Homo sapiens: one gene and its partners. The protein of the gene in region 3 purifies or fractionates together with the protein of the main gene of each other region. This does not show direct contact. Each region holds a gene or a part of one and is shown on either strand. Other genes may lie near its edges.

Evidence for each region. The genes of interacting proteins can lie anywhere in the genome.
Region 1: the proteins of RAB14 (region 3) and KSR1 purify together in Homo sapiens (co-immunoprecipitation; one large-scale study listed by IntAct). This does not show direct contact.
Region 2: the proteins of RAB14 (region 3) and NRBF2 purify together in Homo sapiens (affinity purification with mass spectrometry; one large-scale study listed by BioGRID and IntAct). This does not show direct contact.
Region 4: the proteins of RAB14 (region 3) and VPS13C purify together in Homo sapiens (affinity purification with mass spectrometry; one large-scale study listed by BioGRID and IntAct). This does not show direct contact.

Annotation. Positions count from the first base shown.
Region 1 is NC_000017.11:27,623,692-27,626,935, reverse strand, and holds the end of KSR1 (kinase suppressor of Ras 1), read right to left. Parts: 3' UTR 501-3,244; downstream 1-500.
Region 2 is NC_000010.11:63,136,328-63,139,827, reverse strand, and holds part of NRBF2 (nuclear receptor-binding factor 2), read right to left. Parts: intron 1-3,500. UniProt on the Homo sapiens protein: May modulate transcriptional activation by target nuclear receptors. Can act as transcriptional activator (in vitro). Involved in starvation-induced autophagy probably by its association with PI3K complex I (PI3KC3-C1).
Region 3 is NC_000009.12:121,188,370-121,191,869, reverse strand, and holds part of RAB14 (ras-related protein Rab-14), read left to right. Parts: intron 1-1,138; coding exon 1,139-1,316; intron 1,317-3,500.
Region 4 is NC_000015.10:62,050,448-62,053,947, forward strand, and holds part of VPS13C (intermembrane lipid transfer protein VPS13C), read right to left. Parts: intron 1-3,500. UniProt on the Homo sapiens protein: Mediates the transfer of lipids between membranes at organelle contact sites. Necessary for proper mitochondrial function and maintenance of mitochondrial transmembrane potential.

The DNA of each region.
Region 1 (3,244 bases), on a different chromosome or scaffold from region 3:
GGGTGAATACCTTAACCTCTCCGTTTCTCATTTTCCTCAGCTGAAACATCACAATTCTTACCTCATGGCCTTGTGAGGATTAAAGTGAGATGGTGTTTAGAAAGTACCTCTTCTCCACCTATCTGTATATATAACTGGCAATGAGGGGCTCCTAGATATTGGATTCAGATGAACACCACCTCATCCCTCCAAGGCTTCCATAAGGCTAAGGCATCTCCAGCTCAGGAGATGCTGGGCCTGCTCATGGCTTTGTTGCTGCTGGGGCCTGGATGATCTTCCTCTGCGCATTGTGGGCCATTGACGCTGTGCCTTCTCCATTCCTCCATCTGTTTAGAAACACCTGCCACTGAGGTCCTGGCATAACTTCTTCCTTTGGAAGGAGCTCCTTAATCTATAGACCAGGGGTTCAGTCACCCCAGACCTATCCATTCCCATGCCACCCATCCAAATGGTCCCCAGGACTCAGCTGGAACTGACCAAAGCAAAGACAAGCCCCAGAACACCTTGGTATAACTTTATTCACAAACTCCAGACACCCAGGCCTGGCTTAGCACAGAGGGCATGTTCTTGCCAGTGGCAAAAAAACCCGATACAGCATGTTTGTTAATACTAACCATTTTAATTTAAATTAATAGCATGTCTGGAAGACAAATGTAGTTGATAGAAAATATAAAAACTTTACTGTACAAATTTTACATCACATTCAAAAAAAGCAAGTGTGTGGCTTGTGGCCACAGAAGATGCTAGGTTTGCACGCTGATGAGATCCTGGCTAACACTGCTGCATAGCACAAACTCCAACTGGCTTCACATTTACGTCTCCACCCTCCCCCCACACCAAATCAACACAGAATAACACAGGTTTCCAGGGCTTGCCATTCCTCTCTGTGACCTCAAGAGGAAATGCCGTAGGATGACAGAGGGTGTTTTGATTTGGTGACATGGAGAGATCAACTTTGCTACACACTGCTCACAACCCCAAACTAGCTAGGATTCAAGACTTCGAGTTAGACAGAAACCCAGGGGGCTGCGGCTCTGGTGGTTAAAGGCAGCAGGGCTTCAGAGGTGAGGCTGGAAACTGGGGATGCCTGGAGGGCCAAAGCTTGGGCTCCACTCTCAGACCCCCGTGGGGACTTCCGCAGCCCCTAAGAGCTCTCCCCGAGCCCTCCCAGCCTTCTCCATCCCCTTCACAGTTGGCCGTGAGGGCTGAATTCACAGTATCTGTCATCCTTCGTGTGGAGAGAGCACACAGAAGGGCAGGTGTGCCTTCCTAACCTCAATTCACAGTCACTGAAATACAAGGGGAACAGAGGGGGCCATCATGGGGTGGGGTGGGGTTCTTTAAAGGCAGGCAGTGCAGAGGTGGCAGGCTGAGAGCCAGCTGCCCCCAGTCCTTCAGTTCCACCTTTGGGGCCCAGTGGCTTCTGGGTTCCTTGAAGACAACAGGGCCCCACCAGGTCATCAGTTCCTTAAGAGCAGGGACCATGACTGTTCCTATCTCTAGGTGCCCAGCACTTGCAGAAGACCAAGTGCACTGTAGTTGCTCAATGAGCGCTTCTTTAACTGTGATGCTCACGAGAAAAGCAAAACCCAGACTGACTTTCTGTGGGCCTGTGCATGCCCACTGCGGCCTGGTGTCAGGGGTCAGGGAGGAACTGAGCCTACTGTTCCTCCCAGTTGGACGGCTGAGCTGACATCCAACTGTGGGGCTCACCAGTACATCCATCAGGCCTGCTCTTGCCTGGACAAAGGCCACCATTGCAATAGAAAGGTGAAAGGCTGGAGACACACGTGATCCCTGGGAAGGGGCAGGTGTGTGGGAGGCCAAAGGGATGATGGGGCAAAATGAGCAGTCCCACCATAGCACAGAAACTCCACACGGAGCTGAATCCACGGGGTTTACAGCCTCCCCACACAGACTGGGAAGGGTGAAGATGCTGATGGCCAGGCACACTGGCACTGTAATACGGCTGTGCCCTCCCAGGAGGGGCTGACCAAGGGATGCCAGGCCTGGAGAGGAGGCAGCTCCACAGCTTGCTGGCAGAGCAGCTCATTTTCTGTGGCATTTTGACCAGACTCTGGTGCTAGGGAAGGGGCTGGAGACTGGGGCTCTGCTAGGCAGGTCTTAACTGGAAGGGGTGGGAGCCACACCCCTCCCTCCCCAAGTCTGAGCTCAGAGCATGGTCACAGGTTCTGGGCCTGAATCCAATCACGTCTCCACTCCCATCACCCTTTTTCCTTTCTGGTTTTGGAGTCTAATGCAACCTAATCTCCACTTAAGGGCTCCCTTGCCATCTGGAACTTTTTTCTGCAGTTAAGAGTTTCTAACGAAGACAAGCGTGGTGCTCTCACTTCAAAGACTTTTCCAAATCCAGCCCCTCCTGCTTCAAATGGACACAAGTAGAAGGCCTAATGGTGCTAAGGAAGGCTCTGCAGATGGGGGCCAGCTAGGTAGGTCTAAATGAAAGGGGTGATAGCCCACACACTGCCCAGCTGAACTCAGAGCATGGACAGAGGAGTCGGAAATAGGCTAAGGGGTTTCAGCAGGACTGAAATGGAAGAGGTGGGCAGTTCTAGAACCTTCTGGCATGACTGACAAAGGGTTTTTACAGTGCCAGGGTCACCCTGTGGCTGGGAAGTGGGCTCAGGTACTTTTGCCATCTACTCCTCCTTGTTCCCACCCATCCAGCCCTCATGGTCAGATGTCAGTCAGGGACTGGGATGTATCTAAAAGCCAAGGCCCTGAGTCCCATCACCTTGGTGCCTGCCTGGGGGCTTCATCAAAGACTCACATCTGTACAAGCCATGGATGTTTCCTCACCTTGCAGCAGAAACCCTGGCTGGGAACCACCGGGTGAGTCCAGACCTTTTTTGGATTCTGTTTCTACTTTTCCAGCAGGAGCAGCCTGGATTACAGGGGTGAGAAGGTGAACCCAAGCTCTCCAGGAATTCCAGACTCCATAAACTAGCTCAGTTCCTAGCCAGGGTTTCCTCTGCAAGACGAGGAAGGGGCAGTATCCCTTTGAAAGGACAAGGGGAGAGCCCTAGATAGATTTCCCTGATGGAGTCTTGGGCCAAAAAGCAGAGGCCAGATCAGACCTTCTGGGCTCCCCGCCCTACCCCAAGAACAGCTGCAATTACCATGTTTGTCTTCCTTCTGGCCCAGCATGGGTCCCTCACCGCCTACAAGGTCCTCAGAGGGGATGGCCATTTCCGCCATCCTGGCCGTCAGTGCCAGTGCATCT
Region 2 (3,500 bases), on a different chromosome or scaffold from region 3:
GGATACCTAAAGAATCCCTTCTCCAGATTTTCAAACTTAGGAGCAGACAATATGAAGAAAGTCTAATTAATGTGACATTCAGAGGCTAGCCAGGTGGAAATATAGGTCTGCAGAAAGGAGGAGTGAAGCAGACAAGCCTGAAAAGGCAAAAAAAGAGAGGGAGAGTCTGATTAAGTCGGACTGACAGGCTCTATACGGTCATAAACCAAGCTACATTATACCCCTGCCCTTCCTGCACCTTTCTTTGGAGTCCAGTAAATTATCTCTTTTGGCTTAAGCTAATTTCAAGTGGGTTTTCATCAACTACAACCAACAAAAATCCTAACTACAACAACTAGGTTACTAAGTGACTGCCATCACTGACAAGTACCTTTTACTTCCACATGCTAACTGCTTCAAAAATACATGTTCAATACTACCCTCTTTCCCAAAAGAAAACAGTATTACTTTCTATTATTTTTTTCTGTGTCCTTGGGGAAAGCTGTTAAGTAAAGATGAAAAGAAAAGGAACACCAGGCCAGGCGTGGTGGCTCACGCCTGTAATCCAGGCACTTTGGTTTGGGAGGCCAAGGTGGGCAGATCACGAGGGCAAGAGTTCGAGACCAGCCAGACCAACGTGGAGAAACCCCATCTACGCTAAAAATACAAAAATTAGCCAGGCATGATGGCACGCGCCTGTGGTCCCAGCTACAAGGAAGGCTGAGGCAGGAGAATCGCTTGAACCCCGGAGGCGGAGGTTGTGGTGAGCTGAGATTACGCCATTGCACTCCAGCCTGGGCAACAGAGTGATACTCTGTCTCAAAACGAAAAAGAAAAAAAGAAAAGGAACACCATATGAACACAGCACTGAAAAGGCAGCAGAGGAAAATCTAACATACACCTGACCTTATGGTAGGGTCTTCAGTTGAAAGAGAAACCTCACTCACTCCCCCTTTCCCAATCAATGTGCGTCTCCTACAAACAAGTAGCAAACAGTTATCTCAAATCAATAAGCACTGAATTGACTAAGTAATATAACGCAATTATACTGAAGATAAGCGCTCAAGTGTTGGAGAATTCCAGGAAAGACTTTTTTTTTTTTTTTGAGACAGAGTCTCGCTCTGTCGCCCAGGCTGGAGTGCAGTGGTGCGATCTTGGCTCACTGCAAGCTCTGCCTCCCGGGTTCAGGCCATTCTCCTGCCTCAGCCTCCCGAGTACCTGGGACTACAGGCGCCCGCCACTGCACCTGGCTAATTTTTTGTATTTTTAGTAGAGACGGGGTTTCACCGTGTTAGCTAGAATGGTCTCGATCTCCTGACCTCGTGATCTGCCCGCCTTGGCCTCCCAATTTTTTTTTTTTTTTTTGCGACAAGGTCTCGCTCAGTCGCTCAGGCTGCAGTGCAGTGGCGTGAGCTTGGCTTACCACTATCTTCACCTCCCAGGTTCAAGCGATTCTCCTGTCTCAGCTTCCCAAGTAGCTGGGATTATAGGCATGTGCCACCACACCTGGCTAATTTTTGTTTTGTTTTGTTTTTTGATACGGAGTTTCACTCTGTCACCCAGGCTGGAGTGCAAGGGCGTGACCTTGGCTCACTGCAACCTCCACCTCCTGGATTCAAGCGATTCTCCTGCCTCAGCCTCCCAAGTAGCTGGGATTACAGGCACCCACCACCACACCTGGCTAATTTTTGTTTTTAGTACAGACAGGGTTTCATCTTGTTGGCCAGGCTGGTCTCGGTGACCTACCCACCTCAGTCTCCCAAAGTGCTGGGATTACAGGCATGAGCCACTGTGCCCAGCCCAATCTTGCCTTCATATCCTACTATCACCACTTACCCTGCATTTCAAAGTCTTCATCTTTAAAATAGGGGGAATATCTCATATTTAGCTATTAAGAGGAAAAGATAAAAAATATACATAACGTGCCCGATGCCAATCCTACCACTTAGCAATAATTGCTGGATATCTCTTAGTACTCTCTACCTCCTTTTTCCAGAGTGCTTTCATTATGCCTAGCTCAGCTTGTGACAAAGAAATTTTCCTTGGAATTTTTCAGGGCAACAAAGAAGGGGTTCAAATTGCCTCTTTTTACCTTGAAGATTTTAAAGCCAATATAATTAAAATGGGATAGGTATAAGGACTCCAGGTATGCATAAGGCCATTCCTTGGACCATGATATCTGACTACTTTTCTTACAGAAGCTGGAAAGTAAGAGGCTTCATTAACTACCTCATGTGATGTGAGAACTGACCACTCTGGAGGGAAGCTGTTACTCAACAAACATTCTCAGCACTCTTAAGGGCTAAACACATAGAAAACGATTGTGGCCAGGCAGTCACATGGACCCTGCCCTTTGCAGCAGAGGTAAGCAAAACATGAGCAACAGCCACATATAAATTAAGATCTGACATCACTTTCCAAATCAGCAGCAAACAAACCAAAGAACTAGAAATTATCTCACAAGAGTTTTGACATTTGTTACCAGTAGTCACACTGACAAAATGTGTACGGAAAGAAATATCTAAATATACACTAATTTTATAAGTTATAATTTTTCCATATTTAAAACTGACAGGCTGGGCACAGTGGCACATGCCTGTAATCCCAACACTTTGGGAGGCTGAGACAGGAAGATTGCTTGAGGCCAGGAGTTCAAGACCAGCTTGGGCAACACAGCAAGACCCCATCTCCACAAAAAGTTTTTGAAAAAATTAGCTGGGCATGGTGGTGCAAACCTGTAGTCCCAGCTATTGTGGAGGGCTCAGGCAGGAGGATCCCTTGAGTGTGGGCAACAGAGTAAGACCCTGTCTCTTAAAGAAAAATTGACCAAAAAACCCTAATGAAACAAAGTTATTCAGAGTGCAAAGACTAGCTATTTTTTTCTTCAGTGGAAGTACAATTTTTCTTTTGACAAACTTCAATAACCAGATAATTAGAATCCATTACCTCTGTGGTACATATTAAAATGAATATTTCAAACTAGTCTCTTCCAGATCTTAAAAATTCACTGTGAGGAATTTCTAAGGCCCTTACTGCCAAACCTAACATAAAAGAATCAATACTGGAGCAGAGGTAATAAATGCTAACACAGAATCTACAGTTCAATATAGATGAGAACCATACTGAAATGAACATGATGAGTACAATATGGCAGCATTGCTAGAAAGAGGTCTTGATATCAAAATAACTCGTGATTCATAATGTATTTAAGTTACTGACCTAAGTAATTACCTAATTCTCTCAGCTTAGGCTTATTTATCTGTAAAACTGGAAAACACACCTTACTAAGTTCCGAGGATGCTCTGAGGACACATGATTACAAATCCATGTACTGTGATAAGTCCTTATACAATGAATTTGGACTACACTACGACGTCATTTGACAAAGCTTATTGCATTAGTAACTCTCTGAGTATAGAAAAAGAAAAAGCTTGTATAATACTAGTGGAATTTTCAAAGACATTCAAATTATAGCATTGAGAACTCTCATCTTGAGTCAACTAGATACTAAGTTAGGTGTT
Region 3 (3,500 bases):
TGATTGTCTTATTAGGAGAAATTTGCTGCATGTATCATTTGTTAAATAACAGATTTGAAATACTTAAAATGGAATTCTTTCTACTCTTTCTTGGGTGATAGAAGGGACCAATGTGTTGTAACTGATATGCTAAATATAGTTGAAAGTGTTTCTGTATAGTTGAAATTATTTCTTTGACATTTTTGTGCTGCTTACCACAGAGGTTTGATGTAACATTTTATGAAGTGCCCAGAAGTCTGTGTCCTTGTACTGGAGAATGGTGGGTTTAGGTTTTAAGTGGCCTCATTATAAGGAAAGGACTAATAAATTTGTTAATTGGCTTAGACATATATAACTTGTCATTGTATAATAAGTAGTATATGTTAGCCAGGTGTGGTGGCTCATGCCTGTAATCCCAGTAGTGCTTTGGGAGACTTACGTGGGAGGCTTGCTTGAACCCAGAAGTTCGAGGTTACAGTGAGCTATGCTTGTGCTACTGCACTCCAACATGGGTGACAGAGCAAGACCCTGTCTCTAAAATATATGCATATATATATAAAACATGCTGATTTTCTTTGAGACACTGATATTTTCTGGGATAAGAATCTGTTTGACTAACAACTCCTAGGGTACCAAGACCATTGATTGATCTGTTATAGATAATGATTGTAAGAAGGCTAAATGGTATAATGTTGATATTGTGAAGAATTAATTAAAATCCTTATTTTTACTTAGCAGATTATTTTAGTCGAGGGGTCAGCAAACGGTGGCCAGTGGGGCAAATCCAGTCACTGCCTGTTTTTGTGAATAAAATTTATTGGAATACAACCATGCCTGTTTTACATATTGTCTCTGGCTGCTTTTATGCCTCAGTGGCAGAGTTGAGTAGTTTGTGACAAAGACCTTTTGACCTGCAAAACTTAAAATATTTTCTGCTTGGTCCTTTCTAGAAGTTTGCTGACCCCGATTCTAGTACAGTCACATTTCCCTGACTTCTTACTTCTGGGTGTTTGTTAATTTTTTTTTTAGCGGTAGCTTTAGTCTATTTATAGCCTGTAAGTATTAGTAAGCCATTTGCTTATTTAGTGGATTTTCCCCCTCTAGGCTTAATTTGAAGTTTTCTGAAAATTGGGCTATTACTTTTTTTCCTCCTTAACAGTTATGGCTGATTGTCCTCACACAATTGGTGTTGAATTTGGTACAAGAATAATCGAAGTTAGTGGCCAAAAAATAAAACTGCAGATTTGGGATACGGCAGGACAGGAGCGATTTAGGGCTGTTACACGGAGCTACTACAGAGGAGCTGCGGGAGCTCTTATGGTCTATGATATCACTAGGTAAGAGATAATTTTTCAACCTTCATATGGGGAAAATAAATCTACTTTGGGCATTTAAAAAAAAATTGATAGGCATTTTTTTTAGTTTGTAATTGTATGACTGTGAATGAACTTACTTGTTTTTTATGGTTTCTTAAGTTGCCATGTAAAACTTGATATAACACATTGATATTTTCCAAAAGTTTTTATGACTGAAGAAAAATTTAGGGAGTTAGTTATTGGGTGAAGCTAATAGAAGAATACAGTTCTGAAAAGCAGCTTCAGTTGAATGATTTGAGGAGAAATAATATTTTATATAAAATGTTCTTTTAAGTAGAAAGCAAGCAACTCACTCTTGGGACTTACTCTATTTAGTCTCTAGTGTTAAAGTTTACACCTCTCAAAAGAAGGCCAAGCAAAGAGTTTTGCTAGTCCAGCATGGTAGATTATAAAAAACTTTATGCTTGCATCTGAAGGTGTTTGAGTATTTATTTACTAATTTTTTTTTCTCTTAAAATGGATAGAAATGACTTCAAATACTACATGCAGTAGGTTTAAATTTATTTCAACATGACTGTTTCTGGAATTCCAAAGCACTTGATGTAAAGTAATAAAACTACTGTACATAAAGGTTTGACTTTGGAGAACATGGAAAACTGTGCCACTTGATTAGACCCTGCACTGTTTGTCTACTGTAAGCTAGAAAATGAACTGGATCACCTTTCATGTTGATGTAAAGTGCCAGTCAAAAGCAATGTGACTCTGTTTCTTGGGGGTAAAGATGGGCGAGTGGGACCAAGTGATAATTAGAGTTTAAAGCATATTTCCTTTCGGAAAATGCCTTAAAAGGTTTCCTCTTGATGTGTCATAATGTGCGTTAGCATATTAAGACTCTGGGAAGTTCTGCAGTAAGAAATTCTTTGCTGTATGACTTTATTTAATTTGGTGTTTCCTAAGCTTATTTTATTGAGGAACACACTTTGGGAAATGCTGCCTTAGAATAAAGATATTGACTAATTATAATTATAGTGCCTAAAGTTTTCAGTAAATTCTAGAATTGGGTGGCCTCAAAGGGAAACAAGCCTTAATGCCCTTCATTATAGCCAGGCAATCTGTGATATGATCAAGAGTATTATGGGAAGACTGTTAATAAACCTGGCCGCCTACGCAGAACTGTCTGATTTTATAAGGAATGCATTTCTGAAGACTTCACATAATTAAAAACTCAATAAAATTTAAGTATGGTGATGTGTGCTAAGAATATTGTTTTTGCTTTTAAGCATATCTTTTAAGCATAGTTAATACTTTTGGTAAAATCTGTGTCTATTCAAGTCATCAAAAAAAGTACTTCAGCTGGGAACAACCAGAACATGCATCAACTGATGAATGGATAAACACTGTGATATATCCATACAATGAAATGTTACTCAGCTATAAGGAAGAAGGAAATACTGATACAGGCCACAACATAGATGAAACTTGAAAACATTATGCTAAGTGGAAGAAACCAGACACTAAGAGACACATACTGTATGATTTCATTTATGAAATATCGAGAATTTATATTCTGGTAAATTTATAGAGAAAGAAAGTGGATTGCCAGAGGATGGGAGTGAGTGACTTCTAAGTGAGTTCAGAGTTTCTCTCTGGGGTGATGAAAATGTTCTAGAATTAGATAGTGGTGATCAGTGCACAGGTTTGTAACTATCCTTAAAACAACTAAATTACGTACTTTAAAAGAATAAGCTTTATGATATGTTCATTATATTGTAATAAAAACTGTTACTGGAAAAGAGTACCCGAGGCTTTAGTCAGGCGCTAAAGTGATACTTTATAGTGACTTTGGTGTTGCAGTCATGACAGCAATTTTTTTCTGTTATTCTTTGACATTTTACAAACGTAAAAGTCCCTTTTTATTTTTGTCATTAACTCTCATTGTTACAGGGTGCTTTTCTAAATTGACAGCGTAGCTTGTCGTGACAGTTGTTTTGCCATAACATTTTGACATATCTAGTATTTTAGCACTTTTTTTTTAGTACTAGTACCACCAATTAATATTTGAATAATATTTATTTATAGATTTAAAATTATAATTATAGTGAATATTAAATTAATAACAATTACCAGAATCATTGGCAGAAGTTATAGTACATGTAAGTAATATGGTTTATATGATTTTGGTACTAGGCTTTTCTGTGTACTTCA
Region 4 (3,500 bases), on a different chromosome or scaffold from region 3:
TGCTAGAAAGTCACCATAGTTTCAAAGCCAATCTTGAAAGATATTTTAAGAAATATACTAAAAGGGCCAGGTGCAGTGAGTGGCTCATGCCTGTAATCCCAACACTTTGGGAGACCAAGGCGATTGGATCACTTGAGCCCAGCAGTTGGAGACCAGCCTTGCCAACATGGCGAAACCCTGTCTCTACCTAAAAAATACAAAAAAATTAGCCAGGCATGGTGGCAGGTGCCTGTCATCTCAGATACTCAGGATTCTGAGGCAGAAGAATCACTCGAACCAGAAGGGCAGAGGTTGCAGTGAGCCAGGATCATGCCACTGCACTCCAGCCTCAGTGACAGCCAGAGCAAGACCCAGTCTCAAAAAAAAAAAAAAAAAAAAGTAAATCCTGGATCAAAACTGGATCAAAATTTAGTATTCTTCAACAGTGAACCAGAAGATGAAAATGGAAGTAAATTAGCAAATGACATGAAGAGTTGGAGTCATCGCAAAAAAAAAAAAGTAGAAATAGTTGCTAGTTATAGAAAACAACCAAGCTAGTGTATTTATGAATAAAAATCAAATGGTACTAGCACAATAAGGAAAAGCCTGCCTAAGTCCAAGAATGGCTTTTTAAATACATAATGGCCTACAAAATAAATGTAAGAAATATAGTCCTATTGTTAAGTACCTCCAACCAGAAATAATCTCTCTAAACTTTTGCAGAAATTTAGGCTATAGCTTTCTTATGGTGCGTAACACTTAACTTTATATAAATCCCCAGTCTGATTATAAACTTCTTACTGATTCTCCTCAGAGTAGGTACTCGATAAATACTGACTTCAGAATGCATATTGTACTGGGGTGGAACCAACTACAATAAGGTCATAAATCTTTATATTTTAGAAAACACTTTCAGATGTATAACATTACTCAATCCTCACAGCCTCCTGGGCAAGAAACAGGTTGTATACATTAAGCAATAGAAGCTGAGGCTTAGAGAGGTTAAATGACTAGCCCAAGAATCCTATGGCAACCTAATAGTAAGTGGCAGTCTCAAGGCTCAAATCTTATAAAACTCAATGCTATCTTCAGAATAACACTGTTCTCCCGAATAGCAGAGCATAAAGCGTATAGGATTTTAATTCAGAAGGTAATTCGACCTCCCTGGACAACAAAAATGCCATAAAAGAATCAGACTCAGCATTCACAGGCCAGCGTGGTTGTCGGTTCCACTTTTGGTCTCTGTATTTGCAAAGAGACGTAAAAAAATCCAAAACAAAAAGGATAACTAAAATTAGTATAACAAGGGCACAGGCAGAACGGTAGGATAGAGTCAAGGGGGTTATGTTCAGAGCATAACCAGAAGAAAACGTAGTGCCACAGGGAAAAACAGATGCAGGAGATGGTATTACAAAATGGTCATTTTAGTACTTTTTAAAAATCTATTTTTTTCCTCAAAAGACAGAAATTCACAAGTTATGATTTAGAACTATTTGGGACCATAAAGATTTTCAAATCTAAGCCCCTCTCACTTTATACATGAAGAAATTAAAGTCTAAAGAGATCTGGTAGTTTATCCAAGGTTATACAATTTTTTTGTGGCAGTACTAAGAATAGAATCTATGTCTCCCAACTCCTAGGTCAACTTTCTTAATATAAAACATAGAGGTTAATCCAAAACTGTGATTAAACACAAAAACCATCCAACAAACAAAAATGCCATGCCATAATCCATGAAACTAGCTTTGCATATAAAGAATAGTGAAATAAAGAATGCTTTGTATTTATTTTTTAAGATTTTGTTTATGTATCTATAACATAAACATTATTTAGTTGAAAGCATATCTGAATGTTCTGACACAATTCATTTTCCAGGGAGGTGAGCTAAAGTAGATGACTGAACAGTTTTTTAAAGCAAAGCATGAATCAAATTATTTTAATGATTTATGTTTTAGTAAAGAATACCAGGCCTGGTGCGGTGACTCACGCCTGTAATCCCAGCACTTTGGAAGGCTGAGGCAGGTGGATCACAAGGTCAGGAGATCAAGACCATCCTGATACGGTGAAACCCCGTCTCTACTAAAAAATACAAAAAAATTAGCCAGGCGTGGTGGCGGGTGCCTGTAGTCCTAGCTACTGTGGAGGCTGAGGCAGGAGAATGGCGTGAACCCAGGAGGCAGAGCTTGCAGTGAGCCGAGATTGTGCCACTGCACTCCAGCCTGGGCGACAAAGCAAGACTCCGTCTCAAAAAAAAAAAAAAAAAAAAAAGAATACCAAAGAAAATATTATAGCTATTCATTTCAAATGAATCTAGCTAGTCAACCCAAATTAACCAATCTAGACTCCTTTTAATGAGTTCACAGTGACTTTGTCTTCAGAGAGGAAGACAGGAAAGAGAAAGGAAACAACTCTCTCACTCTTCCCATTTCCCTACTGAAACAGGAAGTTTTGACAAAGGAAGGTAGAAAGCTGCAACATCACCACTGAACTTTCTCCCTTTCAGTTCACTTCAGGGATCCCATAATATTGAGTAATGTGGTAGAGCTTCCTAGCAGAATGGTTACCAAAATACCAATTCTCAGTTTTAGTTCTAGAAAAGGAGTTAATTTTTAATTAGTAATGCTACTTAAATATGTGAACAGGTGCTTAAATTTAAATTTTTAAGCACCGCTTTAACTGGTAGTAACTGAGCCTAAATATGTATTACACTAATGACCTTTTCATTATTGTTTACTTTTATATGCCATAGGACAAGCTAATGAGAAATGTGGCCTCCACTACACCAAGTGCTGGCTGGGAGGAAAAGACTAAAGAAAATCCCTCTACAGGTTTAGAAATACCTAGATACTGACATCTTTTATGTGTCAAAGCCAAAAAAAGCAAAAAGAGCTGCTTTTTCTTTCATTCTCAAGCTGCCCTACAGGTACCTGTTAAGACAATATATTACAGTATATTACACTTGGACCCACAAATATCAGCATGAGCCTGGAACTTCATTTATCTTGTCACTGTCATTGACTGTGGCTCTTTACTCACCAATATCGGGTGAAGAGCAAAAAGGAAAGATAAAGATACATTATTTAACTACCTTTTCTCTCTATGAATGCGGAGGAAGTGGCAGTACCACTCATCCAATGAAGGATCTCACGTTGTTCTTGCCTTGCTCAAATCACAGAAGTTTAAAGACAGAAGAGATGACCTTGTCTAACCTTTCCACTTACAGATAAGCAACCAATGGTCACTTGTCAGAGACATGCCAAAAGCCACACAACTAGACAGAATCAGAGATGGAATAAGATTAAAGAGGTTTGCTCATTCCCAGTCCAGTGTTCATTCTCCTTTCTTATGCTGCACTGCTCCAACAATATCTGGCAGCTCAAGGGGAAGTGTCAAGAGTGGGATAAACTGTCAGGAGTGGGATAAACAGCACGGGTTCAGTCTGGTTTGCAGGGCCACAGATTCTGAGGGCATTGCACTTGGCTTCTATTCCTGGTCACCAGAGTCACCCTTGTATCTAACAC